2 separate regions of the Homo sapiens genome follow, and region 2 is linked to region 1. The links come from fine-mapping of genetic effects on gene expression. A gene starts in region 1. The other region holds a variant in brackets. All regions are shown on one strand. Distances are from middle to middle. Region 1 holds the start of HERC3 (HECT and RLD domain containing E3 ubiquitin protein ligase 3). Region 2 overlaps HERC3 (HECT and RLD domain containing E3 ubiquitin protein ligase 3).

The links. PIP is the estimated chance that this variant, and not a neighbour inherited with it, causes the effect.
Region 2: its variant is fine-mapped to the expression of HERC3 in whole blood (TOPMed, PIP 0.99).

The regions. Positions count from the first base shown.
Region 1 is chr4:88,590,599-88,593,461 of GRCh38, forward strand. HERC3 (HECT and RLD domain containing E3 ubiquitin protein ligase 3) reads left to right here and starts at 1,882. Exons shown (of 26, transcript NM_014606.3): 1 at 1,882-1,976. RefSeq lists silencers at 1,388-1,447, 1,618-2,177, 2,498-2,863.
Region 2 is chr4:88,706,143-88,709,052 of GRCh38, forward strand. It overlaps HERC3 (HECT and RLD domain containing E3 ubiquitin protein ligase 3), which reads left to right. Exons shown (of 26, transcript NM_014606.3): 26 at 610-2,397. The coding sequence ends at 818. Among named protein-coding and RNA genes, the nearest start is that of FAM13A-AS1, 2.2 kb to the right of the region's middle. The variant T/C (reference allele first, on the strand shown) is at 1,773.

The DNA of each region.
Region 1 (2,863 bases):
CACTTGAGCCATGGGCCAGACATATCAACCCAAACACTGATTGATTACAAACCTCATATGTGACACCTAACAATAGGATCTCTCACTTTCTCCTTTGCAAGTACCGGACTCCTTCGTCTTCCTACCAGACTCCTCTTTGGGCATTTAACCAGTTCTTTTGCCAACAGCATCTCTAAATTGGGATTGCATCTTTGTAATAGACTAAACTTTTGTGAAACTGCCACATATCTGGAATATAAGTGAATTGTGTTACTCTTGTCCCCAGTGTTTCTTTTTTCCTTTTTCTTTCTTTTTTTTTTTTTTTTGAGACAACGTTTCATTCTGTTGCCCAGGCTGGAGTAAGTACAGTGGCTTGATTTCAGCTTACTGCAACCTCCGCCTTCCAGGTTCCAGTGATTCTCCTGCCTCAGCCTCCTGAGTAGCTGGGACTACAGGCGCACACCACCCTACTCGGCTAATTTTGGTATTTTTTTTTGTAGAGACAAGGTTTCACCATGTTGGCCAGGCTGGTCTCGAACTGCTGACCTCAAGTGATCCACCGGCTTCGGCCTCCCAAAGTGCCGAGATTACAGGCATGGGCCACCGCGCCTGGCCATCCCCAGTGTTTCTAAACGTGTCAAGTGTGATCCAAATTTCAAAGGTTTGGATTTTTTCTTAGATGACCTGATAACTTAGATTCTGCTTTTTTAGCTTTCTTGTCTCAGTGTACTGGACAATTTGCATTATTTCACGGAGGGCTCAACACTGTCAGTCAGCCAACAACGTCTCATCCCCAGGATACACCACTCCTTGAAACTTTCTTTTCTACTTGGTCAGTCTGTTAGGTTCTCAGGACGAGCGATTGCAGACCTGAGGTGATTTGAATGTCCTTGGTAAGAATCTATCCTCAAAGGGCCTTCCTGCTTCAAATGCCAGGTTATAGAAATTCTTCCACTGGGAGAGTTATTCCTTTGGATTAAAGCAGTACCGTGCCAGTGTTCTGCATTTTACATTTAAGGGGGGCAGACACATGAAGTCACCTTTCTGAGGTTTTCTGCAAAAGATTAGCTGTGGATCAGATCAGGTCTAGGGCAAGTATGAAAGCACTAGTGACCTTGGGGAGGGGGAGGAAGCTCTGGGATTCGGCGCTAGGGAAAAGTGGAAGAGGACAAACTTTTAAAAAATCCGTTACTGGGTATAGGCCACAGAGTGTCTTTCAGATTACAAGATTTTAAGATCTGGTGCTCAGACTCTTCTTGCTATGCTCCCCCCGGGTCCACCCTCCAGCCTCCCCCAGGCCCGCCTTTCTTCCGCAGCCCCGTGCCGGTCTTCGATCCCCACCTCTCCAGAAGAGCGCCGGCGGCTGCCGCGTACCTCCTTCCCCGCCTCTCCCACCGCGCAGCGCCGCGGGCCGGCGCCGCGCTTCCTACAGTCCTACGAAGGGGAGTAAAGCAGAAGACTAGCGCACTCTCCCTCAATTGTCACCCTCCAGCTTTTTCCCCCGTGCCCAAGGCTTTCGGTCACCTCTTCATAAATAATAAAAACCAGAGTCCAGAACCTGAATAGGCAACCGCTGATCGGTCCAGCTCGCTTCCCCGCCAGTGAAAAGCAATCTTATTTCAGCGTCAACGCTCTATGTCTTGCAGTCCGATTTCGGCTGACACACCCGTGCCGCTGTCCCCGCGCCGGGCCCTCGAGTCCTGTCACCTCGGGCAGCCTGCGCCTGGCTCTGGGGCCTGGGCCTCTCCCCTCCTCCTGCCCGCGGACCTTGCCGCCCCGCCTCCAGCCCGTGCCACGGCGGCCGCCATTGGCGCGGGCCCATCCCAGAACGGCGCCCATTGGCCCGGTGCGAAGCCATTCACCCAGCGCATTCCGCCGCCCGCAGGCTTGCGGGGAAACTTCCTTATTATTGTGACGCCGAAAACGGAGAAACCCCGGGTCCGGCGAGAGGGGCTGTGACAGTCGGAGTCCCAAGCTGCGGTTCGGCTGCTGCCGAGGTGCGCAGGGCGGGGGCCGGGGTTCCAGGGAGGGGGGTACGGCGGAGCTGCAGCCGCGCTGGGCCGCGTTCCGCCTGGCACTGCAGTCAGCGCGCGGCTCCCGGAGGGGCGGCTGCGGCTCCTCCCGTGGCTCCGGCGGCGGGGGCTGCAGGCACCTCCAGAGACGACCTGGGTCTGGGGCGCGGGGAGGTTGGGGCGCGGCGCCCTTAGTACCCTGCGTACGCCTCCCTGGCGTTCTCGTGGGCTCGCCCTCCGGTCAGAGAGCCCCGCGCCGGGAAAGGCGAGACAAGCCTTCAAAATGGGAGCGCCTCCCGCCCGCGCTCGGCCGCCCTCCCGCCCTGCCGCCCGGGAGGAATTGCGACGCAGAAAGTCAAAAGGAGGATAGTCCCTATGCTCGCCCCCTGCCCCTATTTAAATTCTGGGGTTCCAGGGACCTCCGTGCAGTGAGGGGCGCGGACGCTTTCAATTGAAATGGGAGCTGGCGAGGCCCTGGCATTTTGGGGAACCTCAGCGGCCGCGAGGAGTTTGCGCCGAGGACGCGGTGCACGGCGTCCGCGATGACAGCGCCGGCAGGGCTGCGGGGCCCGGCACCACCCACTTCGCGGAGGCCGGGCCGGCTCGCCTCTCCCGGGTCCGCCTCCTGGGCGGGGCCGGGGGCGAGGGTGTGTGCGGACACGTGTGTACGGGTGTGTGTGTGTGTGTACGCCGACACGTCGGTGCGGACCGACGCGGGGGTGTCAGGAGCTGGGACGGCCGGGGGCAGGTGAGACTTGAGTCATTTGTGAATGTGTGGAGTGGGCAAACCAGGGCAACCAGACCGAGAGGAGCATGTGTAACCTGAAACAGGTGAGCCTATGGAGACAGTACCTAATGCGACTGTGCACGGA
Region 2 (2,910 bases), 120 kb after region 1:
GGTTATTTGAAAGTGCTTCTTAACTAATGATTTTCTTATAGTAATTTCCAGCAATTCAACTATGAGAGTGTTGTTCAGCACTAGAAAACAAGGAGCTGTCTTTCTCTGTCTGTCTCCCTCTCTCTCTTTTGCCAAGTCACAGTGCATGTCACAAGAGTGCAATGTCTAACATAATGTTTGGGTCAGCTCTTCGGGTTTAAGAAAAATGGAGACGTGGAAAGGAGAGCAAATAGATCCTAAATGGAATTCCGTAGACAAGGTGGTACAGGCATCAGGCACTTGAGGTGAGAGGAGACCCTGAGGTCAGAGACTTCAGTCTTCTTCTGTTTTCCCCTTAAGATCAGCTCCTCTTTTCCTATGACAGCAATTCCTTCCCTCTTTGATTTTGTGAAATCTAACATTTGTGAGGGTGTACATTTGATTGAGGCCTTTTTTTTTTCTTAACGGCATCTAATTTTCATTCCACAGGATGCATATTGGCACATAAATGTAATTGTACTTCTCATGCAAGCCACAGGGTGTCATGCCTTCCTCTCCTGTTGCCAGAAGGATCTCTGAGATCCATTTTCCGTTTGCTTAGCTGCTAATGCCATTTCTCGTTCTCCCCAGTGTTCCTGACAGGCAGCGATCGGATTCCCATCTACGGCATGGCCAGTCTGCAGATTGTCATCCAGTCCACAGCCAGCGGGGAGGAGTACTTGCCGGTGGCCCACACTTGCTACAACCTTCTTGACCTCCCCAAGTACAGCAGCAAAGAGATTCTGAGTGCCCGGCTGACCCAGGCCCTTGACAACTATGAAGGGTTTAGTTTGGCCTGAGGCTTCTCAGCTTGTCCAGTATTTCCCTTCGTTCCTCAGTGTCCACATTGAGGCCTATACAGAAAATCATGGGGAGTGATTTCTATTTTTTTATTGTCTAAGTGGGTTGGGACTTTTAAATACTGAGCCTGGTTGATGTGTTTCTGGGATTGTATAGCAGTAAACAACCTTTTTGAAAAATTAGAGGTTGGGGATGGGGTGAAAAATTGGCCCTTGTATGGGAGGTGTTTTTGTTTTTGTTTTAAACCAAACTACCCAGTATTCCTTGCACTTGTGAATGTGTTGCACTCTGCTGGATGAAATGGCAGTGGATTTTTAAACTTTAATTTCCCAAATGTCTCTCTCAGCCCTGATGTTTTCTCACAGTGCTTCCTTGTCCTTCTCTTAACTTCTCATTCCTCTATAAGAATGATTTAGACTGACCTGTCCTTTTTTATCTGCGCATGCGAGAACATCACCTTCCTCTGTACACTTGGAAATGCCTCTGGCTTGTTGCAGCCCTCCTTTAACCCAAAGGAGGAAAGGACTGCTTCAGAAACTCCCAATTCCAAAAAGCTGAGTCTGGGTCCATTATTTTGGCAGAACTCCTAAGAATTTATGGGAGCCTATATAAACATATCTTGCTTTTAAAAAGTTCTTGAGGGAATAGCAACTTTCCCATGGCTGTGCCTATTTCCTAGACCTTTTAAAAGATGTGCAGAGCAGCTTAGCATTCGTTGCAGCTGAGCCTAATTTTTTCTTGCTCATCCTTGTCCCTTTGACAATAAGGTTAATTGATAGACCCACCACCTCTTGCACTCTCGCTTTTGGAGCAAGTTGCATTAACTATTTTGAGTCTCTATATTGTCCAAGAAAAGTAGAAATAATAAATTTACTTTCCCTTTTTCTATCACCTTATGTCCTCTACCATTTTCTCCTTCCTCCCTTCCCTTATTTTCTCCTTTTCGTACCCTG[T/C]GTCCTCCCTGATTTTCCTTTCGTTTCTTCTTTATTTTATCCCATTCTCTGTTACTTGACTCAGTGCTCCCTTCCTCTCCTCTCCTTCTAGTGGATGCATGCAGCCTTTTTTTCAATTTTTATTTAAATTGCAAAATTTTTACTCAGATTTTTTTTCCTCTTCCCTAATTGCTAAGATTTAAGGACGTTCTTTATTATGAAACTTTATCACATTCGAAATGTTTGTTTACAGTGGGATTTTAGGGGGGATTGTGTTTAAATCAAATATATGTATTTTAAAAATAATGACATGCTCAACCTTCCTCATCATGGAGTAAGAAAATTCTACATGATTAAAGAATCCATGTAAGTCTAATTTTAAATTCCTAGTAACTAGAGAAAAGACTTATTTATATAAAATGAAGTATTTATGAACTGTGATAAAGCATCAAATCTTGATGAAGGATTGTAGATTTTTGCTTTTTCTTTTTGTTTTTAAAACTTATTCCAATTGCTAAATTGGTAGTTTTTCAGTCTTTATAAATACAGGATTAAAAATATATATACAGTTATATGAAATGTTTATTTTCTATGTGTGTGCATATAGTTCAATATTATGCAATAAATTTGGTGTTTTAACTTAAAACTATTTCTTATTGTACTTGCAGAATGGATAGCTTGCTTTTAGTAGAAGCATTAGGTCGTATACTCAGATAATCTAATAGAAGGTCAGATTTGATTCCTGCATAAGAAAGTAGAGCCAAGTGCTGCAGAAATGGAGAAGAAAGCAGGGGCAAGGAGCAGATGGCATTAAGGAAGAATGAAGTTTTTGAAGGTTGGGATGGACGAAAAGGTGTTTCTCATGGAGAGGGATGCTTTAGCAAAGGCTCAAACATTGGGGCATATTTAGGCAAGAGCCAAGAACAGTTTGAAGGGAACATCAGAGGAAATAGGCAAATAATAGTAAATAATGGTAAGTAAGACTTGGGAGAAAGAAGGTAGATTTGGGGCTGAGGAACTAGCCTAACACTGGAACTTTAGTAGTAGCCAAGTAGGATTTGTTTCAATGTTCAGAACTTGAGGGTGATAAGACCTGAGCCGGGTCTTAAGAAGGAAAATGTGGATGGTCTAAATCTGGAGGTATTGAGGTGGGAAGGAC